Linked DNA regions of Homo sapiens. The protein of the gene in region 1 interacts with the protein of each later gene in a pairwise test. Each region holds a gene or a part of one and is shown in the gene's direction. Other genes may lie near its edges. The genes, in order: ERMP1, CLDN9, KCNN3 and CREB3L1.

Region 1 (4,084 bases):
AGTTTGACTTCCACTGTCATCAGTTTCCTTGGAAGTTCCCAGTGATGACTAAATTTTCAGAACTGAGCTAATATTTTCCAGCTTGAAGGGAAAAACTAGTAAAACATATTTTAAGGTGTTACATGATCAACTCTGAAAATTACAACTCCATTCATAATGGCAGTCCTATTCAGTACTGTTACAGCACTTCGCAGTTTTGCCAACACTTTCATATGCTTTTTCTAATATAATCCCCTCAATGAAGAAATTGTGACATAGATTAAATTCCTGATGTCATGCAGCAGTTAAGTGATAGGACCAACTTAACACAGGCTTTCTCATTTACAGTCTGTGCCTTTTCTCCTGTACCTCATTATTTAACCTTGTTGATTCACACTAAGTGTCCAAACTGGTAAACCTCCATTAGGTTTATAGTAAGTATATTTAAAGTCATGCAGGCATGAACCTTTATGAAGTCTGGTTTGGATTGTGGGTTATTTTTTTGATCCTTTTAAAAAGATTAACTGTTCTTTCTTCCTTTTACCTTACAGGACCAAGCCATATGTCCTTCTATGTTCGAGCCCACAAAGGGTCAACACTTTCTCAGTGGTCTCTTGGCAATGGCACCCCAGTCACAAGTAAAGGAGGAGACTACTTTGTCTTTTACTCCCATGGACTCCAGGCCTCTGCATGGCAGTTCTGGATAGAAGTGCAGGTGCCAATTTCCCAGCATTGTTTGTTTCATTGATTAGGTTCCCAGGTGGTATTTAGCAAGAACCTTGGGTTCAGTATTCTGGCTTCTGAGAACTGGAGAACTAATTGATTTTCTCTGGCAGGTTTCAGAAGAACATCCTGAAGGAATGGTCACCGTGGCCATTGCTGCCCACTATCTGTCTGGGGAAGACAAGAGATCCCCTCAACTGGATGCTCTGAAGGAAAAGTTCCCAGATTGGACATTTCCCTCTGCCTGGGTGTGCACCTACGATCTCTTTGTATTTTAATCTTGTGGATGAGCTCTAAGTACATGCCCAGTGGATACTCCATGTGACATGGTTTCTCCCTATGTTACGTGGATGTTTGTAACGTAAGTCAATGAATTTTAATGATCATATGTTCAAAGAGCTTTCTGGGTTAACGCTTTTCAGGGCCAAGCACTATAAGGGTTTAGCTGTGGCGCAGTGATGCATGGCCTGTTGACACTTGAAAATGCCAGTCTTTTGGCACTTCAGCACATGTGGGTACTGCCACTACACACACGTCATTTTATATGACCTTAAGGACAAAGCCAACAATCCACTTCAATAGCTGCCCCTTTAGGATCAAGAAAGATGTACACTGTCAGAGCATTGTTAATGAGACAAAAGTTGTTTCCAATTTAAGCCCCAAAACCATTTGTTGTATTAGTGGATGGTGGGTAAAATATCATTCACTGAGGTAATGATTCCCCTTGAGAATATAACTCTGTGTAGGTCACTGGAAAGTGATTGCCATAGGGCTGGGAGAGAAGCATTGCACTCTTGAGGCTGTAGCCTGTGTCAAGCTGTTTCTTCAGGCAGCCTCTCAAATGTGCTTTGTCTCTCTGTGCTGAGGCCTGGACCCTGTGCTGAGCTGGTGACTCACTGTCCTGACAAGTGGACACACAGATGCACTGCTGTGCTGCTTTCCTGAGGTGGTTTTCTATGCCTGTTTTCCTCTGAAACATGTCTGTTACCCCTCTCCATCTTACCAAGTTGAAAAGGGGAATATTTGGCCACATACCCCTCTGGTTTTCGTAGGTTCTTTTGGTTCAGAATATTGTTTGTGCCAGTACATGACCTTAACTTCCTTCCTCAGAGCACTGAGCTGCCATCTGGGCTATTCTGGGGTAGAAGGAAGGCTGGGAGTGGTGGGAATTTTATAAATATTTATTCTCTTTTCTTTGTTTCATAGGAGTCTTGTGTTATACAAGGTTAGTCCTTCATGGTATAATCTTACTGATGCACTGGGCCTATCTTTTTGTTTTCCAGCCAGTTGAATAGATTAGTTTTTCTCAGTAACTTACTATCCAGCAGACTGGCTTTCCTGAGACTTGAGGTTGTGGCTTATACTGGAATGAGACCACTGTACGTGTAGGTGGTTCAGATCCTGCGTAATGGCAGCATGAGGACTTAAAAGGTGGTTTTCATTTTGAAGATGGCTATGTAGCTTGTAAGGTGTATCACAGCAGTACCTCTCATGGCTTTTTGGTTCCAGCAGTGAGGGCATTGGTGAGATCAATGGTAAACTGTGCAAGCTTTCTTTTTATCATTAGGAAATGTGAAACGTTGGACAAATTTTGAGTTTTAACAAGGACAAAAAGTTGAAAGAAAAGGCACAGTTAACAAAAAAGGGTGGCTAGATTTATCTTGGGTGATGGAGGAAATGAGAGAGGAATGCTCTTGAAAGGTGGTCTGTGGATCTGTCTGAATAGAAAGAGCACAGTAAGTATGCATTGCCGGAGAAAACGTCCTTGAAGCTGCTTGTCTCATGTGTATGATGTGCTTTTTAAATCATGCCCCTCGTTGCCTGCCTAATCTGTGACTCCCTAAAAACTAACTGGGCCCATGTAGATGGGGCTGCAACCAGAGCTGAATAACATGTTAGGCTCACACATGCATCAGCACTGCACACTGGAATCATTGCTCTTCCTGGACTTTGTAGAAATCAGTCTCAAGTGCTTCAAGAGTCTGGCTCCTGCTACTTTTATCTGTCAGGTAGCACATAAGGTTTGCAGGGTTTATATTTTGTATAGAATCACAGTTGTGGAGAAAAAGTAATAATTTCTCAATGAATTTTAAAAATGGGCCTATTTTCTATCCCCGTGGTTCATCTGATATAATTAGTGTTCCCTGTGAATTCCCCCCCTCTATGGGAAGGATGCCTTTACTCTTTATCAGTAATAAATTATGACTGTTTTCATATTGCCTTAGGGTTATTTCCCTGTGTAAACCATTGTCTTTTGTTTTGGTTTTCTTTAGCATTATGAAGCTTTGGTATTGTACAAGGTCAGTAGTAAGATGCTCACTAGTCTCAGGGCTTGTGTAATATTCTGGGAGGTCATTTAAATGCCAGAAATGGTCAAGCAATTATACACAGTATTTATGACTCTGTTAAGCATACCGTTTGTCTGTCACATTAGTAGATTCTGAGATTAAAAAAAATTTTTAAAGAGTGATCATTTAAATAATTTCTAAAAGGGTCTTTTCAAGCTCTAACAAAGTCACTAACAAATGCATTATTTTCTACAGAATTAGATGTTAGTAGTACAGTACTGCATATTCAGGGAAAAAGTGTGAGGAATTGATTTCAAAATAGTTCGTTCTTGTGTTTGACCTAAGAATGATTGTCGCATGAAGTGTTTGTTTTTACAGTTTAGCATATATAAACAAACATGATAGGATTCCTTAAGATGTTACCACCCAGGGGGCCACAAGCCAGCCTGCTGTCTCAGGAAGCTGTAGAAGGAGTGTTTGTCAATTTCTTGTCACTGGTTTGCTGACTTACTGAGGATTAATTGTTGCCTTACAATGTTACTGAAATAAACTGTTTAATATACTGGTTGGTATCTTTTTAACTGAAAAACAGATCTGTGTTCTTCTGTATCCCCATATTTTCAAGGGTTATTCCATGTCCACAGAGCCTTTTAATTGCTGTTAAAAGACCTAGATGGCTCATGTGAGCAAAGAACTCAACATGGAAATGTTTACTTCAGTTAGAATCCTTTATCTTAGAATGAAATGGTACTTCTGAATTTCACAGAAATTATTAGGTAAATGTTGAGCTTCACCTATGTAGGAGTTTTAAATCATCCCCATTAGCAAAAAAATAGCAAAGGGTAAAGGGCGTTCTTTTATTTGGGAGTAAGGGTAGGAGGGAGGGAAGAAGTTGCCTTTCAGCCAGAGTGACTCATTGCTTATTCTAATCTCCACAGAAGGAAAGGGCACCACCACTCACCAAAATAGAGCATGAACTTTGAGTTCAGAGATCTCTGTGCAAGTTATTTAAACTTTGAGTGAATTCTCTCAGAACAGTTCAATGCAAGGTGAAGCAGCTGAACAACTTCTAACCTAATACTCCTCTTCTTCTT
Region 2 (6,597 bases), on another chromosome or scaffold:
TTTCCCAGACGTGGTGGATGGGGGAGGGGACTTCGCTGGAGGTGTTAAAGTGCCATTGAGATGGTAACCACACCAAGGGGCCCCCACTTTTCCATATCAATGGCATTCCAGTCCCTGATTAGGCCCCAACCTTAACCCTTCCTTTCCCAAGATCCAACTGAATCCAGGTGCACGGGGGCCTAGGAGAGGGTCTAGGACCTCCCAACCTAGGTCTAGTGAGGGCTGAGGACAACAGGCTAATTGCTACCCATGTGTCCTGGGAATCCTCCCACCATGGGCAGCTCCCCAACCACCCTCTTCCAGCCTCTCCTAGGCTCCAAGATGTTTCTCCACTTTTACTCTCCCCAAGGGGCTTGGGGAGATACTGTGTTTTATCTTAGAGACTTGGGGTGGGAGGAGCCTGAAGCCGCACAGGGCCACTGTGAAGGCAAGTCCAGTGGGTTGGTCACTGAGGTGGGGGTGTGCGCATTTGCTGAGCAGCCTCCACCCACTCTGCTGGCTAGTCCCTGGAGTGTGGGCTTGCTTTCCTTCTTGCTCCGGTGTGGAGATGTTGGGCCAAAGAGGAATTGGGGTCTTAAAAACCTGGGGTCGGCTGGATGCGGTGGCTCACACCTCTAATCCTAGCAGTTTGGGAGGCCGAGGCAGGCAGATCACGAGATCAGGAGTTCGAGACCAGCCTGGCCAATATGGTGAAACCCCGTCTCTAATAAAAATACAAAAATTAGCCGGGTGTGTTGGCACATGTCTGTAGTTCCAGCTACTCGGGAGGCTGAGGCAGGAGAATCGCTTGAATCCAGCGGGCAGAGGTCGCAGTGAGCCGAGATCACATCACTGCACTCCAGCCTGGGCAACAGAGCGAGATTCCGTCTCAAAAAAACAAAACAAAACAAAACAAAACACAAACCTGGGGTCCCCGAGCAAGTGCGGTGGCGCTTGCCTGTAATCCCAGCACTTTGGAAGGCTGAGGCAGGCGGATCACCTGAGATCAGGAGTTCGCAGACCAGCCAGACCAACATGGTGAAACCCCGTCTCTGCTAAATACAAAAAAAGAAAAAAAATAGCCGGGTGTGGTGGCGCATGCCTGTAATCTCAGCTACTTGAGAGGCTGAGGCAGGAGAACAGCTTGAACCCAGGAGGCAGAGGTTGCAGTAAGCCGAGATTGTGCCATTGCACTCCAGCCTGGGCAACAAGCGCAAAACTCCGTCTCAAAACACAAACAAAAAAACCCCTGGGGTCCTCTTATGCCCTTTCCGGGCACAGCGCTCACTGGATGTGTGCAGCCCGCCACTGGGCTACAACGTAGGGGTTTAGAGCTGAATGTGGAACCGGTGAGTCACCGAGGCAGGGCCCGACAGCAAGTGGACCAGCCGTCCCGGTTTCCCTGGAGGACCCAATATTCAAGCTGGGAATGTCCCTCAAAAAAGTGGGATGAGCCGATCACCTTAGGCCCTAGGACAAGGAGGACTTGTTCCGGCCCAGGGAAGAGAATAGCCCCTGGGTTGGGGCTGCTGGGTGGGGGGACTTCCAGGGAGGCAGGCTTGCTGCTGCCTCCTGACAGCTGCCCAAACCTGTGTGGCTGGATTCCTGGAGGCCCCTGGAAGGCTGCGAGGGAGCCCGCTGACCGGCTTGCCTCCGTCTGCAATCTCTGCTCTCCCCACCCCAACCCTGTGAAATCTGAGCCCCAGGGGCTGGGTGAGCTGGACAAACCTGCCACAAGATTCCCTGAGTCCACTGATGGCCATTTTCCAGCCTCTGTATCACCCCCCCATCTTCCAGACTCTGTGGGGCCACCAGGTCAGCCCCCCTCGTACCGGAGGAGCCCCCCTCAGTGGAGAGGCCCAGGGGGTGGTGAAGAGGAGGCCAGGCTTCTGTTTACCTTACAGACCAGCTGATTGGCGCTGGCCTGTCTCTGTGTTTGCAGGGGAGGATCTTAAGCTGTTTTGGGTCAAGGCCCCTTTGCAAATCTGAAGGAAAGTATAAATCTCTCTTCCAAAAGTATCATTTTTTTTAAGAGACAGGGTCTCACCTAGGATGGAGTGCGGTGGCATAATCATAGCTCACTGCAGACTCTAACTCCTAGGCTCAAGAGATCCTCCTACCTCAGCCTCCCGAGTAGCTGGGACTACAGACAGGAACCACCTAACTCAGCTAATTTTTGTGTATATATATATATATATATTTTTTTTTTATTTTAGAAATGGGGTCTCACTGTGTTGCCCAGGTGGGTCTCAAGCTCCTGGCCTTAAGCAATCCTCCCACCTTGGCCTCTTAAGCGCTGGGATTACAGGCGTGAGCCTCAGTGCCCGGACCCAAAAGATGCTAAAACCCTTTCGCAGAAGCGATGCTCATACCCCTAGGTTTGAACCCTGACCGCTCCTTGAGGTTAGAGCCCTTTATACACAATGTCCCACCCACTAGGTGAGGGGCACTGAGCAGGGGTGTGCCTGGCCACTGGCTCCCCGAAGGCAATGCCGTGAAGTGGTGCAGCCACCAGATGTGTGTGGTGGGCACCTCCAGCCCTGCCCGCACTGGCCAGTGGGCTCCAGCACACCCCAGCCCTCCCAGCACCAGGCAGGTGAGAGGCAGTCCCAGGTGAGGGCCCACTCTGAGGATCCTCTGTACCTCCCTGGAAAGTGTATGAATGGAGACAATGTTCCTCACATCCCTTTTCCTTTTTTTTTTTTTTTTTTTTTGAGACAGAGTCTCCCACTGTCACCCAGGCTGGAATGCAGTGGTGCGATCTCGGCTCACTGCAACCTCTGCCTCCGGTTCAAGCGATTCTTCTGCCTCAGCCTCCCAAGTAGCTGGGATTACAGGCACCCGCCACCACGCCCAGCTAATTTTTTTTTTTTTTTTTTTTGAGGAGTCTCTCTCTGTCGCCAGGCTGGAGTGGAGTGGAGTGGTACGATCTTGGCTCACTGCAACCTCTACCTCCCGGTTTCAAGTGATTCTCTTGCCTCAGCCTCCAGAGTGGCGAGTGGCTGGGACTAGAGGCTTGTGCCACCACGCCCAGCTAATTTTTGTATTTTTAGTAGAGACGGGGTTTCACCATGTTGGCCAGGATGGTCTCGATCTCTTAACCTTCCGATTTACCTGCTTCGGCCTCCCAAAGTGCTGGGATATCTAATTTTTTGTATTTTTAGTAGAGACGGGGTTTCACCATGTTGGCCAGGCTGGTCTCGAACTCCTGACCTCGTGAATCGCCCACCTTGGCCTCCCAAAGTGTTGGGATTACAGGCGTGAGCCACCGCACCTGGCCGTCACACCCCTTTTTCAGACAACAATCCTCAGAGGTTCTTAGCACCCAGGCAGGGGCTTGAAGGAGTTCATGAACCCTCCCCCACAAATGAGGGGCACATGTTTGTGGGTGCATGTTCTGTGAGTCCCACGGGGTTTCTCAAGTGGGTCTTTGACCAAAGGAGGTTAAGGACCTCGACCTTCCATGACCTGTCCCAGGTAGGGGTCAGGATTTGAGCTTTGGTCAGTGGGACTCCCAGGCTGTCCCCATGAGTGGAATCACAGGCTCTGAGGGGGTTTTTCCGGAGGTAAGGCTTTCCTGCAAACTGGAAGGCAGGTCTTGGGGACACTTGAGTCCCTGGACTTAACCCCCGTGCCCACCTCTGGGGTGTTTTGGCCCGGGAGGCCTGACTGGCCACTCACTCACCCACCCATGGAACATAACCGGGTCCTGGGCTGTGCCCCACCCTGGGTTCCAGCCCCAGCCCGTCCCGCCTCCATCCCCCTTCCTGAGTGCCCCCCAACCTCCACAACAGGCCCCTCATCCTCTGGCCTCTGGAGATCTTAGGCAGCTCAGCTCAGCCTCGGTTTCAGCAGCAGGGGTGGCAAGAGCGCACCTGAGCTGAGGTTGAAGTGGGGGGTAGTTTTCTAGGCCGTTGCCAGGGCGATGCCACCTGAGCTGGGCGCCAGGCACCTGTCGTCTGGGGAACAGTGCAGGCGGGGACCTTCCCCCGGGAGCTAGCGGGGCCACTGGGCTGAGACGGGGGATGGATCAGATTCCAGAGAGTCCCAGGCGGGCGGGAGTGTGCGATACTCGGGGAGCTGGGGCATGTTTGCATCACGAAACTCGGCTGGGGGAGAGCAGAGGCAGCTGGGGAGGGGCTGCGGAAGGAGGAGGCTCAGGAAGGCAAGCCGACGCCCCCTGTGTGTGTTTCTGTCCTGAGCCTGTTACTTTTTTGACCCCCGATCCGTCTCTTCTTCCTCAGCTTGTCCTCCATCTTCCCCTCCTTTACCCTTGGTTCCCACATGCACAGATGCTACGGACGCTTTTCCTCCCCTGTCCCCACTCAGCCGCAGCATCCCCCGCTGGCCCCCAGGCCCCTCATCCATCCGCTGCCCACGAACCCCCAGCCCCGCACCCTCCCCGTGGCTCAGGTCTCCCCTATCCCGGCCTCCCTGCACTTCACTCTGCTCCTCCCCTGCCTGGGCCTTAAAACCCCGCCTGCAGCCGAGAGCCCGCAGAGTCCCCAGGTGGCACTGTCAGAGTCGCTCAGTGGGAACCTGCGCCAGCCGGCAGGAGACGTGGCTGTCCTCAGCCTGGCAGTGCGTCTGGAGGGCCTGTGCGAGCTCAGCCCAGGTGTGACAGCGGGGTGGTAAGAGCAGCAGCACCCTCAGGGCATCCGATGGGCGGAGGCCCCTCGAGGTGACACCCACCACTCAGCCGAGCGGGACTACGAGTCTGCTTTGTGCTCCGCGAGGACCAGAAACACCTGCAAGAGGCACGGAGAGGAGGCGCCTTTCAAGAGGCGCCTTTCATGGAACTGAGGACTGGCCTGGCTTGGGGACACCAACAAGCCTTCCCCCTCCTGCTGGACACAGAGACACCCACCCAGCACACCAGACACACCCTCTGAGTCACCTAGGCCGCCTGGGGCTGAGAAGACCTAACCGAGGGGCCAGATGGCTTCGACCGGCTTAGAACTGCTGGGCATGACCCTGGCTGTGCTGGGCTGGCTGGGGACCCTGGTGTCCTGCGCCCTGCCCCTGTGGAAGGTGACCGCCTTCATCGGCAACAGCATCGTGGTGGCCCAGGTGGTGTGGGAGGGCCTGTGGATGTCCTGCGTGGTGCAGAGCACGGGCCAGATGCAGTGCAAGGTGTACGACTCACTGCTGGCTCTGCCGCAGGACCTGCAGGCCGCACGTGCCCTCTGTGTCATTGCCCTCCTGCTGGCCCTGCTTGGCCTCCTGGTGGCCATCACAGGTGCCCAGTGTACCACGTGTGTGGAGGACGAAGGTGCCAAGGCCCGTATCGTGCTCACCGCGGGGGTCATCCTCCTCCTCGCCGGCATCCTGGTGCTCATCCCTGTGTGCTGGACGGCGCACGCCATCATCCAGGACTTCTACAACCCCCTGGTGGCTGAGGCCCTCAAGCGGGAGCTGGGGGCCTCCCTCTACCTGGGCTGGGCGGCGGCTGCACTGCTTATGCTGGGCGGGGGGCTCCTCTGCTGCACGTGCCCCCCGCCCCAGGTCGAGCGGCCCCGCGGACCTCGGCTGGGCTACTCCATCCCCTCCCGCTCGGGTGCATCTGGACTGGACAAGAGGGACTACGTGTGAGGCGGAGGTTTCCCCTGGGAGCCCACTGCTCCCCACTGCCCCGCCCTTTCGACCTTGGCCTGATGACCAGATGCCCTGCTCCATCACAACCTCCTTCCCCAGGAAAACCCACTTTCCAAAAGCCCAAGCTACACCTGGCTGCAGGGCTGGGTCAGCTGGCCTGGCTGAGCTCTTCTCAGTGGGGTCCCCTTTGATGTTCTCCCCCAAGTTGGGCAGCCTAGAGGTGTTGGGAACCCTGGCCTGCCCCCACCTCCCCAGTAATTGTTTCCTTCCGTTGCCCAGGACACTGGCTGGCCTTCCTTCTCTTCTGAGCCCTCCCCTGCCCCAGGAACCCTGGCCTCACCAAAACAGCAGCAGCTCGTTGGCTCCAAAACCAGGGAGCAGACCATGCCCTCCCAACCCTGGAGTTGTCAGGGAGGGCCTGCCCATCACCTCCCTCTCCCCAACATCCCCACCCTCGAGTTGGAAATAAAGAGCATTTGTAACTGGGCTCCCTCTAATCTGTGCGCCGCCGCTGGGGCTGGGCAGGCACAGCCAGGTGGCCTCCCTTGGTGGCTGTCAGGCCAAGGTCTGGCTCTAGGTTCTGCCTGGTGGGTATGCTCACTCAAGCCACGGGGAGAGGGGATCGTGACTCACTTATGCCCATCTCTTCCCCTAGCCAGGGTGGGCACTCAGTAACCCGCTGCAACACCAAATGCACTAACAAAACATGCTTTATTTGATAAAAATGTGAGTGTAAAGGGGGTGAGACGAGGGGGGCAGGGCAGAAGGGTGCAGTGTTGGAGGTGGGGGCGGGGGTCTACATAGCTGGGACCTGGCCCTGGGGGGTGGACGTCTTATCAGGACGGAGGAAACAGAGGTCAGAAGTTCCGGAGGTGGGCAGTCCTTTGTTAACAGATCATTTGTTTTTCCAGGGGTGAAGAGAGGAGCTCCAGAGACCTGAGTAGGATGGGGGGCAGCTGTCCAGTGACATCTAGGGAAGCCCAGCCCCCAGCAGCAGCAGGAACTCTTGGGGACAGTCTGTCT
Region 3 (7,038 bases), on another chromosome or scaffold:
CAGGAGGCAGGCAGGGCCAAGGTCAGTCAGTGTTCCCCTGTTGGAGATGTGGAAACAAGCTCGGAGAAGTCACGCACGGCCTGAGATCACATGGCTAATACCTGGATGTGGGGGACTTCAGGCTAGCTCTCCCACCTCCAGCTCCACTACCCCATGTGGCCCCCACCTTCCCTGCACCAGCAAGCCACAACCAAGGCGGGGCACCTGAGAGGCAGCTGGGGACCAGCACCCTCCCGTCTCGCTGGGCAGAGCTGCCGGTGCATTCTCCCCTTCAGCTCTTACTTACAATCCCACTCCTCATCAGGCAATCAAAGGAATCTGTTACTCGTTGCTTCCATTCCTGCCCAGAGTGAACCCAGTTACTATAGTAACCAGATGCGATTCTTTATTACGGAGTAGATGGTTTTAATTTTGTATTTGAAGAGTTTGGCCAGGCAGTCACGTTGCCATGGCTTGGCCTGTCGGGCGGCAGTTAGAAGCAGAGGGAACCCTTTGAGCAGCCATTAGGGCTTTCTAATTGCTGGGGAAAACCTATGTCTGGAAAAACCCAGGCTCAGCTGCACTGGGGAAGGAGGAGGGTGAGTCTCCAGCTGGTGCTGTGCTGGGTACTGTCTCCTGTTCAGAGATGACAGCTCCCTGATTAGAGCCACCAGGTGAGCCTCTCAGCCAGTTGCTCCCATAGTGCCCTGTAGTTTCCCTTCAGGATCCTCATGGGTGGGTGGGTGGGGGGCTGGCTGCTCAGAGGGCCATCAACACATTTTTGTTGAATGAATGAATGAATGAACAAATGATCCTTTGTAGTTTATTAAACCCTTTCAATCCATTGTCTCCTCTGCTCTCCAGTATGGCTCTGTAAGGGTACGGAGCAGGGAGAAAGAGAAACTGAGGCTCGGCAAGGTAAGAGACTTGCCTCCTAGTGCTGCCTCCCCTGTCTGTGCCTCTCAGGGCCCATGAATTGCCTGGAATGTTCCCCTTGCTGCAGAAACATATCACAGGTAGATGCTAAAAGCAAGGCAAGCATCGCCCGCCCACACCACACCAGGCCTGGTACCATAGGTCCTCTCCTGGGTCCTCAGTTCTTGCTGAACTGTAAGGAAGGCAGCAAAGTGGAGTGAGAAAGCTGCTTGGTGACTAACTTTGAAGCAGAGCAGAAGCTTCCTTTGGCCCAGACCATCAAGGAGACAGTTGGGTGGACAGAATAAAGGGCTCCTCATTCCCTGATCTCCCTGTGCAAGGGAGGAAAGGAAGGCTTCACTCGGCTTTCAGCCAGCCCCCGCAAATCCACGCTGATCCAGTCTCTCTGTTACGCTTTCTGTGCTGAGGGTGTATTTCCAGGTTAAATAAAACCTCCACCCAACCCTGGCCCCAACATTAATTTCTCCTAACCCAGCCTAGTTTCTTCCGGCCTTGCAGCTCAGGCCTTCCCAGGATGCATGCATGGCCTGCTCTCCCAGCCAGGAGGTGCTGATGCTGGTACCCTTCATCCTGAGCTCATGTTAGGCCACAGGACCCTGCTAGCTCCTCCTTAAAGGCAATCATAACCAGCTTTGGAGAGCAGCAGCTCTCTGTGGCTGTTGGTGGAGCAGGCAGCATGTGAGGCTGGAGTCTTGAGTGGGATGTGTTCGTGGATGAGCTGGGACAGGCAACAGCCAGATCTGCTGGAGGGCCAAGGACCCAGTAAAGAGAGGGCATAGTGTGATGATAAACATTCCACTACCTCCCAGAAGTGAGGTGCCTGCACAGGAGGCCCACACCGAACATATGCCCGGATCTCAGGCCTCACCCTCCAAGAATCAAATCATCGGAGCTGGATGAGACTTTAGAGGCTTCTCATTTCAGTCTCAGATGAAGACTGAGGCCCCAGAGGGGAAGGATGTGAAGTCCCTTTCACAGTCATCAAATATGGTGGGACTCCACAGTGGGACTTACCGGAAGACAAAGGCTGGACACACAGCAGGTGCTCAGTCAATTCTTGTGAGAACAGCCATCCTCATGAGGTGACAGCAGGAAGCATCTTCGTGAAAGTTTAGGGCCAGAAGGAAGTTTAGACATCACTGAGCCCAACTGTCATTTTACAGAAAGACCGAGACCAGATCCATTAATAATGCTACAAATAAGAATAGCTAATAGTTACATAGTGTGCTGGGTGCTAGGCAGGATTCCATGCATGTTGCATATACGAACCCACTGCAGCCTCACAGTGACCTCTATGCAGCAGTTATTATCATCATCCCCAGATGAGGTAACTGAGGCACAGGGTGGTTCGGTAATTTGCCCAGGATCATGGAGCCAGTAGTGTTAGGATCAGGCAATCTGGCTCCAGAGTCCGTGCCGTGAACACTTCACTGCACTGTCTGAGAGCACAGTGCTGCCAGCAAACACTTGCTGCCCCCTTCTCTGAGTGGGGAGAAGGAATCTGTGCCAGCCCTTGTGAGTTCACTCATGCAGGAAACATGACTTTTTCATCTTTACATCCCCTTACAGGGCTCAGCTCAGGTCTGGCAGGGGCTCAGGGATGTGTTTCTAATATAAATGAGTTGATCTTTCTCACCATCGTGAAACAGCCAATTTGGCACCTGTGTGCTGGAAGGGACCTTGGGAAGTGGCTCAACATAGAACACTTGTGGTCAGCAAAAAGGAGGGGGTGGTTCCCACACACCAAGCAATTCTCCAATGGACACTGGCTGAGTGTCCTGCAATATAACTCAAGCCTGATTGTCCGCCTGGAGTTAGTGTTGGCTCCCACAGGTTGAGGGCTCAGTCCCACCACATTTACCTGACTTCCGATGCTAGTCACCAGCCCCAGGTTGTTTTATCTGAGCCTCTGACCAAGTGGCTATAAATCAGGGATTCCCAGGACGCCCTTCTCAGGTTTTCATTAATTTTCTAGAGCAGCTCACAGAACTCAGGGAAACACATTTACTGGTTTATTATAAAGGACCTTACAAAGGATTCAGATGAGCAGCCATATGGGAGCGAAGCAAAGGGCAGGGCGCATGGGAAGGGGTGGAGCTTCCATGCCCTCTCTGGGCACGCAACACTCCACGTGTCCAGGGACCTCCATGTGTGCAGCTATCTGGAAGCTCATCGAAACACAAAGAGGGGAACGACAGACACTGAGGGTGGAGAGTGGGAGGGAGAGGATCAGAAAAAATAACTATTGGGTACTGTACCCAATAGTACCTGGGTGACGAAATCATCTGCACAACAAATCTCTGTAACACGAGTTTACCTATATAGCAAACTTGCACATGTACCCCTGAACCTAAAATAAAAGTTAAAAAAACAAAACAAAACACTGTCTTTTTGGGATTTTGTGGAGGTTTCATTACACCGACATAATTGATGACATCATTGGCCATTGGTGATCAACTCAACCTTCGGGCCCCTCTTCCTTCTCAGGAGGTGGTGGGGTGGGGCTGAAAGTTCCAACCCTCTCATCACCAGATTGGTTCCCCTGGCAACCAGCGCCATCCTGAGGCCACCCTGGATCCCCACCCCGACCGACCCCAGCCACTAGTCATCTCATTAGCATACAAATGACACTTATCACTTTGGAAATTCCGAGCGTTTTGGGAACTGTGCCTAAACCAGGATAAAGACCAAGTACATTATTTCTTATTATAAATCACTATATCTCAGGCAGCGATTTGCAGAGGAGGAAAGTGAGGCCAAGAGAGTCAAAGTGTCTTAGCCAGGGCTTCCCAGGTAGACTGAATCCAGCTCTCCCTACTCCACATACAGGGCTCTTGCCACATAGCAAGGCCCCTAAAGAGCATGCTGAGGTGGTCAGGCTGACCTGAGCCCAGCAGCCTGCCCCAGCCTGCCCCACCTGTCCTGCCTGGACCCTGCTGTGGGCTTCCTGGTCCTGGCCACACTAATGGACTTTCTGCTCCCACCAGCTCTTCGTGATCGACAATGGCGCGGATGACTGGCGGATAGCCATGACCTACGAGCGCATCCTGTACATCAGCCTGGAGATGCTGGTGTGCGCCATCCACCCCATTCCTGGCGAGTACAAGTTCTTCTGGACGGCACGCCTGGCCTTCTCCTACACACCCTCCCGGGCGGAGGCCGATGTGGACATCATCCTGTCTATCCCCATGTTCCTGCGCCTGTACCTGATCGCCCGAGTCATGCTGCTGCACAGCAAGCTCTTCACCGATGCCTCGTCCCGCAGCATCGGGGCCCTCAACAAGATCAACTTCAACACCCGCTTTGTCATGAAGACGCTCATGACCATCTGCCCTGGCACTGTGCTGCTCGTGTTCAGCATCTCTCTGTGGATCATTGCTGCCTGGACCGTCCGTGTCTGTGAAAGGTATTCCACATGGGGCTTTCTGAGTACAGAGCCTGTGCTGGGACAGGGAAGGGAGGAGGAGTAGGGGTGCCAGGAAGTATGTGGTCTGATGGAGGAGACAGGCATGTACCCAGACACCTGAAAGGAGACAATGGGAAAGAGGGGAGTGCTGAGTTGGGGTTCAGTATGAGCTAGAATTGCAGCATTGGAACCAAAGTAAGGTGGGAAAAAGGCACAGAATTTTCCTGATTTTCTGTTCCTTCTTTGCAAACCAATATATCAAAGCATTCTGGTTACATCAGTAACTCACATATAACACATTGCAACTTACTCCTCTTGGGTATTAATAATGCTTATTAGCATTTTAAAGGCTCTGAGAAGTCCTGAAGTAATGAAACCATTTATTTTTGTTTGGTTCAGCCTTTCTTAATTGTATTTGCCTGCAAATCCTTTTTATTATAAAGCACTATTGGTACCTTGCTACTCAAAGTTTGGTTCACAGACCAGCAGCACTGGCATCACTGGGAACTTGTTAGAGTTCCCAGAATCTCAGGCCTTAGCCCAGAATGAATGAATCAGAATTTGCATTTAACAAGGTCACCTGGTGATTCATATGCACCTTAGTTTGAGAAGCACTGTACTGATGGAACATACTTTGGGAAACATTGTTTTAGGAGGCTGGTGGTTGGGAGTCATTCAGAGAAGCTACTCATGGGAAAGAAGGGAGATGTGGCCTGACAGAGATCCAGGGCTGTAGAACAAAATGCCAACTCCTTGGAACAGCCATCAACAAGGCTCAAGGGCAGGACTGAAGCCACCTCCTTCCACCACCCTCGAGCTGCCTTTAATGACTCTTCTCCTTGCAAGGGGTCCTGGATTTTCATTTTATTTATTTATTTATTTATTTATTTATTTATTTATTTATTTATTTATTTATCTGAGATGGAGTCTCGCTCTCTCGCCCAGGCTGGAGTGCAGTGGCATAGTCTCTGCTCACTGCAACCTCTGCCTCCTGTGTTCAAGCAATTCTCCTGCCTCAGCCTCCCATGTAGCTGAGATTACAGGCATGCGCCACCATACCAGGCTAATTTTTGTGTTTTTAGTAGAGATGGGGTTTCACCATGTTGGCCAGGCTGGTCTTGAACTCCTGGCTTCAAGTGATCCTCCTACCTTGGCCTCCCAAAATTCTGGGATTACAGGCGTGAGCCACTGCACCCAGCCCTGGATATTCATTTTAATCTATTTGACATGTGGAGTCTAAATCTAGGTTAGAAACCGTGATTCTGCTCCTAAGTAGCTGTGAGACCTAGGGCAAGTTACTTAACCTCTCTGGGCTACAGTTTCCTCATTTTAAAATGAGGATCACTTGAGATAGAATGAAGCTATGTTTGCTTGAGATAGATTATTTTTATTATGTTGGGAGGTATGGTGAAGCATCCTGTGTAATTTACACAAATCCTGGTAGTCGCCCTTAATTTGTCAACACTTACGATTATATTGCCAAATCTTCCATGCACCAGTGTCCTAGCAGAGATCAAACAAGACAAAGAAGTCTGGAGAGGAGTTAGCCTCAACACACCCTACATGGGTGCCTTGAATCGTATCTCCTACCTATTTTTGAGACATTCTGTTTGCAGACATTTCTTTCAGCGTTTTGGCCAACAGACACACGGTCAAACTGAGAGGGCATTCTGCTGCCGCAGAACAAGGGTTCAGGCTCCAGGATGCAGGTTCAGGTTCTGAGAGCCAGTGCAGTGTTGGAAGACCTTTCTCACACACAGAGCCCCAGGGACACACCATGCTCACCTATTCAGAACCTCGCCATTACTCAGCAGCTGACATTGCAACATCTGCTCTGAGTGGGACCACACTGCACAGGGCTTCATGAGCCTTCTCTGGTAAGCAGACACTCTTCCCCCAATGGAGAAAGCATGTGCTTGGGTTCCGACCCCAAACTCTTCATGGTACTGTTAGCTGAGCAACATTGTGCTGGTCGCTTCACCTCTCTGGACCTCAATTTTCTTATCTGAAAGCTGGACACAGGATTTATTGTTAGAGTCAAACAAGGTGTATATATGCACTATGTACTGCAATCCAATGATGGTGAAAGTTAATAATAATAGTGCAGATCCCTTGATAACTCTTGGGAATTTTGTGCTGCCTTCTTTTAATTAGAACAGCCCAACTTGTACCATACATGGGCCTATACTCTTCCTGTTTTCCTTTCTAAATGATGGAAGCCATGTTGTCTATTAACATAGTAATTGAATTTGCGTAGCCCTTTAAGCTATTTGAAGTCTTTCACTTCCTCAGATGCTCTCTGGCATGTATTTCAGATGGCTGAACATGCAACAAAGTACCTGCAAGTGAGTTTCGTAGTTTATTGAACCTATCACAAGAAGGGGTGACTATTTTTCACTGGAAAATAAGCTTGTTTTAAAGAATGTAGTTTGCAAAGTACTTAGATGATGCACCTTATTTGATATTGCATGGCCTTCCATAGCTTCCAAGCTGAGGCTGGGTTAGTTTGGTCCCTGGTGGGCCACTGGGTCTCTCTCTCTCTCTCTGCAGACATGGGTCACAAGCCCCCGCTAAGACCAAGGCACAGAGGAACAATGAGCAAATCGGAAATTCTCTGAAAGTTCCCTTCTCTTGCGAAAAGGCCATTTGACCAAAGACTTAGGTATAACATGAGGTGTATTAAAGCATGGTGGATGTTATTGTTGCACCCCTGTGCT
Region 4 (6,286 bases), on another chromosome or scaffold:
TCCAGACAAGCCTGGCAAAACCCCGTCTCTACTAAAAATACAAAAATTAGCCGGCATGGTGGCGCACGCCTGTAGTCTCAGCTAGTCAGGAGGCTAAGGCAGGAGAATCACTTGAACCTCGGAGGCGGAGGTTGCAGTGAGTCGCAAACGCACCACTGCACTCCAGCCTGGGTGAAAGAGCGAGACTCTGTCTCAAAACAAAACAAAACAAAAAACCTAACAAAAACAATAGCTACCATTTACTAGACACTCACTACATACCAGGCACTGTGCCAAACAGCTCCTTCTTATCAGCTCAGGGTGCTGGGGGTGCCAGGGAGGGAAGGTCAGTGAAACTGTGGCAGGTGTCGGTTAAGCAAAAGAAGGCTGGCATCTGTGCAGCTGGGGGCAGGCCTTCCCTCCTCCAACCCCCTTGGCCAGGAGCATCACAGGGCAGGCCTGAGCTTCCACAAGGTGACCCAGCCAGTCACCATGAGGCAGGCCCCAGGCGCCAGGCCACTCTGCAGAGGAGCCACGCAGGAGGTGACCTTTCCTATCTTGACTGAAACGGGCACCTGGCGTGGAGGCCAAGTCTGGAGCCAGCCCCCTAGGAGAGCTCCAGGAGGCAGAGATGCCTGCGGGGTCAAAGCCTGCCAGCTGACTGCTGTGCCCTCCTCAGGACCCTGCTCCAGCAGCTGCAGAAACTCCAGACTCTGGTCACCAACAAGATCTCCAGACCTTACAAGATGGCCGCCACCCAGACTGGGACCTGCCTCATGGTAGGTGTGGCTCCCTCCACCACAGACCCACAGGAGGAGAGTTCTTCCCAAGGCTGGCTTTTTCCAGGGTTGGGCAGAGCTTTAAGGATCGGTAACATCGTGGGCAGCGTCCCAGGGTACACCATCCTGGCGCCTGGTGGGCTGGTTCTAGCAGACTCCAGACTCCTTCTCCAAGCCCATGGTGCCTTCTGCCTCACACCGGTCCCCGACTGGTTAACACAGTGTAGATGTGTAGGTGACTCCAGTGGCCCCAGCTAGGGGACAGCTGGGCAGGTTCCTTGAGGAGGCGGCTTCCACAGGCCTTGTGCAGGGAAGGGCTTGGGGAGACTCAGGGAAGAACGGACATGGTTCTTTCTGGAACAGATGGCAGTGAAAAGGCTGAGGAAACCCCTGGAAACCCGGAAGGCTCCCAGGGCGTGTTTCAGACCTCTTCCAGTCCCTCTTCTATCTTCTTCTGGAAATGGCCAGTCTCTTGCCGCCTGGCTCAGCATGCCCCGGCCCTCCGAGACCCTCGAGCTGTCAGGCAGCAGAACCAGGCTATGGGCAGGGGTAGTGTGGGCTCCGTGGCTCTCAGCACCTCCCGCTAGCCAGGCTCCTCAGAATCCTGCTGAGAACGTGATGTGGCGGTGTGTCCCCCTCCCTCGTCCCAGCCCCAAGCCCCACCTGCACCTATTCCTTCCTTTCCTGATTCCTCTACCCCGTAAGGGGACTCCACATTGGCCACTTCCCTCTTACTTCTAGCACTGCCTGTGGCGACCCCCCTACAATGGGCTGGGATGGCCTGGGCTGTCCCTGCCTTCCCCAGAGAGGATAGGAGACCCCACATGTAGGAGGGAGTGGTCGACTGGAGCAGCTGCTTCCTTGGGAAAACGCTAAGACTTTTGTGCCTGTTGGTTTGGGAGAGGAGGAGTGGGGTGGTCAGGGCCGTGGCCCCTCCTTACCCCAGATCTGATGCCACTCTCTCTTTGCTACCAGGTGGCAGCCTTGTGCTTTGTTCTGGTGCTGGGCTCCCTCGTGCCCTGCCTTCCCGAGTTCTCCTCCGGCTCCCAGACTGTGAAGGAAGACCCCCTGGCCGCAGACGGCGTCTACACGGCCAGCCAGAGTGAGTGCCCGCCTGTCATGCCAGCTCCCTGGGCTGAGGCTGCCCTGCCCCAGCCCCAGTGTCCAGGCAGAAGCCAGACATAAGAGAGAAGCCAAGTGTGGGGTCAGCATTATCTCATTTTGCCTCATTTTCCAGATGGGGAAACCGAGGCCCAAAGAGAGTCTATGCTTTGCTCAGTGTTTGTGGTAGAATTGGGACTAAAATACAGAGCTCCCGATGCCCAGCCTAGCTCCCAGAGAGCTCAGGAGTGGCTTGCAGGAGGTGGGTTTAGGGGATAACAGGAATGTTCCAGCCCTGGGCCCCATGCATTATGGTGCCAGTGCTTATGGGGCATCTGCTAGGCACCATCAGTATCTCATGATAGGGACAGCAAGTGAGTTTCAGCTCAAAAGCCATTTCCAATAAGGTGGTGGTAGCTGCCTGAAACACTGAGTTAAGAAGGACCCTGGGCCGGGCGCGGTGGCTCATGCCTGTAATCCCAGCACTTTGGGAGGCCGAGGCGGTGGATCACCTGAGGTCAGGAGTTCGACGCCAGCCTGGCCAGCATGGTGAAACCTCGTCTCTACTAAAAATACAAAACTTATCTGGGCATGGTGGCATGTGCCTGTAGTCCCGGCTACTTGAGAGGGGTGAGACAGGAGAATCACTTGAAACTGGGAGGCAGAAGTTGCAGTGAACCAAGATCACGCCACTGCAGTCCAGCCTGGGTGACAGAGTGAGACTCCATCTCAAAAAAAAAAGAAGGATCCTGAGGCACCATTCAGAATTGACAGGAAGGAGTGTCATGATCCACTGATAATGTCTACCATGGACAGAAGAAGGGTAGCGGTGGTGTGGGTTCAGATATCTACTGTTTCCAAGGGGGATAGTAAACGTACAGTGGTTAGGAGCATGGGGATGTCAAGTCCATCGTAACTGGCACTGCCACCTGCTGTGTGACCAGGGGCATGTGTCTTAAGCTTTCATTTCTTCATCTAGAAAATGGGAGTGGCAATTTTGCACTTACTGAGCCATGGCTGTGAGACAGTGCATGAAATAGCACAGTGTCTGTGCTTATGAAATGAGCACACTCAGTCTCTTAGAGCTCACGGAGGAGAGAATAGCTACATCACAGTAGCTGGCAAAGGGAGAACCAGGGTAGGGCCCAGCAAAGAAGAGTGTGGATTTCAGACGCAGAGAATCCTTCAGGTGGACCCACAGAGGAACTTCCTGGCTGTCCCTCATCACTTACCAGTCAGTCACTTACCAAGAACCACGTGTCTGGCAGGACAGGAGGAGGAAGAGGAAACAGATGGGAGGTCAGAGGAGGGAAGATTAAGGAGTGAGTTTCAAGAAGGAGGGATATAGCAGGGAGGATGAGCTAGACGTTGAGGGCCTTGAGGGGAGGAAGCTGGTGTGGGGAGGGTTAGGGAAAGAGGAAGTAGAGACAGGGAGAGTGAAAGCTCCTCCCCGGACACGTGCAGGCTGAGGAGGAGAGAACGGGGTGGTCACTAAAGGCGGGTGGGCAGCAGCAATGCAAGGTCTGGAGAGCCATGTGTCTGCTTTTCCAAGGCCACAGAAGCCACTGGAGAAAAAGGAGTGGAAAGAGAGCTGGGGTTGATGGATAAAGCCACAGTGAGAGGAGGCAATGAATGAGCCCCTTGGAGGGAAGGCAGTGGGTTTTAGGCCCAGGACCTGGGCTGGGTGGAGAGGAAGACACATCCCAGCAGGCAGATGGCTTTGGAGCAGGCTGGTTTGCAGAGCTGGCGCACTGCGCAGTTCCAGGGACCTCTGTTCACACAGACTATGAGGTCATGGCTGCAGAGCCGGAGGGGCAGCAGATCCCAGGGCCAGGCAGACCTGGGTTCGCATCCTCCCTTCAGGGAGGACAATTTCCCTGAGTGCCTGGAACTTCAGCTGCCTCCTCTGGGAAGCGGGGCTAAAGAAACCTCATTCCCTAGAGTTTCTCTAAGATTTTAACCACTCTACTTAGGTCTATGGGCCTTGGATAATGCCTAACAAATGATGGGTGTCCAACAAATGTTTGTTTTCCTTCTCTGAAGGGCAAATTAGGATCTAGAATGGGGAAGAGACTTATTCCAGGTCTCACAGAAAGTAAGTGGTGGACTGGCCGGGTGCGGTAACTCACTCCGGTAATCTCAGCACTTTGGGAGGCCAAGGTGGGAGGATCACTTGAGGCCCAGGAGTTCAAGATCAGCCTGGCCAACATGGTGAAACCCCGTCTCTACTAAAAATACAAAAAGTAGCCAGGTATGGTGGCACACACCTGTAGTCCCAGCTACTCGGGAGGCTGAGGCAGGAGAGTCGCTTGAGCTCGGGAGGCGGAGATTGCAGGGAGTCAAGATCCTGCCATTGCACTCCAGCCTGGGCGACAGAGCAAGACTCTGTCTCAAAAAAAAAAAAAAGGGAGATAGAGCAAGTAAGTGGTGGAGGTTAGAACACAGCTCCCAGATGCCCAAACTCAGTACCCTCTGCTAGGAAGAGGTGACTTTTCTGAGTATTTCCTGAACACAGTTTCAATCACTTCCCCTGTATTACCTCATTTAAACCTCTCATTTACATGAGGTTGGTCCTAGTATCCCTATTTTACAGAAGAGCACACTGAGGCTCAGAAAGTTTAAAGCAAAGTGTGTGGCTTACCTGAGGTCACACATCCGGGAAGTGTCAGAGCTGGGACTCAGATCCAGGGCCTGCGTCCTTAACCACTAGGCCATGAATGTGGCCAGGATGTTGAGGGAATCTTGGGCACACCGCTCATCCTACACTCCCTCTCCAGTGCCCTCCCGAAGCCTCCTATTCTACGATGACGGGGCAGGCTTATGGGAAGATGGCCGCAGCACCCTGCTGCCCATGGAGCCCCCAGATGGCTGGGAAATCAACCCCGGGGGGCCGGCAGAGCAGCGGCCCCGGGACCACCTGCAGCATGATCACCTGGACAGCACCCACGAGACCACCAAGTACCTGAGTGAGGCCTGGCCTAAAGACGGTGGAAACGGCACCAGCCCCGACTTCTCCCACTCCAAGGAGTGGTTCCACGACAGGTGGGGTGTGTGGCCCCTTTCCCTCCTGAGGTCTCAGGCTCCACCTGCCTCCTGCCCACCCTTGGTCCCCACATTGGCCACACCCTCCCAAGGCCCCATCCCTACTTGGTCTAGATCCAGCTTGCAGAGGGTAAGAGGGTTCCTGCTGGACAGTCATCGCTGGCCTCTCTTCTCTCTCCAGGGATCTGGGCCCCAACACCACCATCAAACTCTCCTAGGCCATGCCAAGACCCAGGACATAGGACGGACCCCTGGTACCCAGAAGAGGAGTTCTTGCTCACTAACCCGGATCCGCCTCGTGCCCCTGCCTCCTGGAGCTTCCCATTCCAGGAGAAAAGGCTCCACTTCCCAGCCCTTCCTTGCCCCTGACATTTGGACTCTTCCCTTGGGCCGACCACTCTGTTCTCATTCTCCTTCCCACCAACATCCATCCGTCCTTCTCAGACAAACCACTCACTGGGTACCCCACCTCCTCTCTCATATGCCCAACACGACCACTGCCTCCCTGCCCCCACACCTGCACCCAAACAGACACATCAACGCACCCCACTCACAGACACCCCTTACCCCACCCCCACTGTACAGAGACCAAGAACAGAAATTGTTTGTAAATAATGAACCTTATTTTTTATTATTGCCAATCCCCTAAGATATTGTATTTTACAAATCTCCCTCTTCCCTTCGCCCCTCCCTTGTTTTATATTTTATGAAGTTAGTGCGGGCTTTGCTGCTCCCTGGCCCAGGAAAGAGGGACTACCTGACCCTCACCTGGCACCCCCCTGCTGCTGCCCAAGCCGCTGGGCCTTTTTAATTGCCAAACTGCTCTCTTCATCAGCTCAGCACATGCTTTAAGAAAGCAAAACCAAAAAAAAAAAAAAAAAGATGCAGCATCAACTCCTGACTTTGTGCCTTTCTTCATTGGAGGGGAGGGAAAGTAGAACCAAAGGGCAGGGGAACAACAAGGGTAGGTTGATTTTATGTTCTGGCAGGGGGTGTGGGGGTATAGGAGTATGAGAAGGCATTTTTTTTTTTTTGTAGAGGTAGGGTCTCGCTATGTTGCCCAGGCTGGTCTCAGACTCCTGGGCTCAGTCTGCCCACCATGGCCTCCCACAGTGCTGGGATTACAGGCGTGAGCCACCATGCCCAGCCTGTTCACTTTTTATTTTCCAATATTTTGTTGACTGATTTGTTATTTCCTCTTCTGTCTTTGGGCTTTATTTATAGCTTTTATATGTGTATGCTTTTATTTGAGGATTAGGAAGATAGTTTAGATAAATGTTTTTTATCTGCCTATTTAAGGAGAACCCCATGTATGTATGTATGTGTACATGAATGAATGACAAGATCTCGCTCTATTGCCCAAGTTGGAGTCCAGTGGTGCAATC

Evidence for each region.
Region 2: the proteins of ERMP1 (region 1) and CLDN9 interact in binary tests that used the Homo sapiens proteins (3 or more experiments, as listed by UniProt).
Region 3: the proteins of ERMP1 (region 1) and KCNN3 interact in binary tests that used the Homo sapiens proteins (3 or more experiments, as listed by UniProt).
Region 4: the proteins of ERMP1 (region 1) and CREB3L1 interact in binary tests that used the Homo sapiens proteins (3 or more experiments, as listed by UniProt).

Annotation. Positions count from the first base shown.
Region 1 is NC_000009.12:5,784,040-5,788,123, reverse strand, and holds the end of ERMP1 (endoplasmic reticulum metallopeptidase 1), read left to right. Parts: intron 1-530; coding exon 531-694; intron 695-815; coding exon 816-980; 3' UTR 981-3,552; downstream 3,553-4,084. UniProt on the Homo sapiens protein: Within the ovary, required for the organization of somatic cells and oocytes into discrete follicular structures.
Region 2 is NC_000016.10:3,008,446-3,015,042, forward strand, and holds CLDN9 (claudin-9), read left to right. Parts: upstream 1-4,477; 5' UTR 4,478-4,917; coding exon 4,918-5,571; 3' UTR 5,572-6,060; downstream 6,061-6,597.
Region 3 is NC_000001.11:154,769,258-154,776,295, reverse strand, and holds part of KCNN3 (small conductance calcium-activated potassium channel protein 3), read left to right. Parts: intron 1-3,902; coding exon 3,903-4,321; intron 4,322-7,038. UniProt on the Homo sapiens protein: Small conductance calcium-activated potassium channel that mediates the voltage-independent transmembrane transfer of potassium across the cell membrane through a constitutive interaction with calmodulin which binds the intracellular calcium allowing its opening.
Region 4 is NC_000011.10:46,315,628-46,321,913, forward strand, and holds the end of CREB3L1 (cyclic AMP-responsive element-binding protein 3-like protein 1), read left to right. Parts: exon of another isoform or gene 1-658; coding exon 659-758; intron 759-1,733; coding exon 1,734-1,860; intron 1,861-4,636; coding exon 4,637-4,901; intron 4,902-5,082; coding exon 5,083-5,119; coding exon of another isoform or gene 5,120-5,270; 3' UTR 5,271-5,782; downstream 5,783-6,286.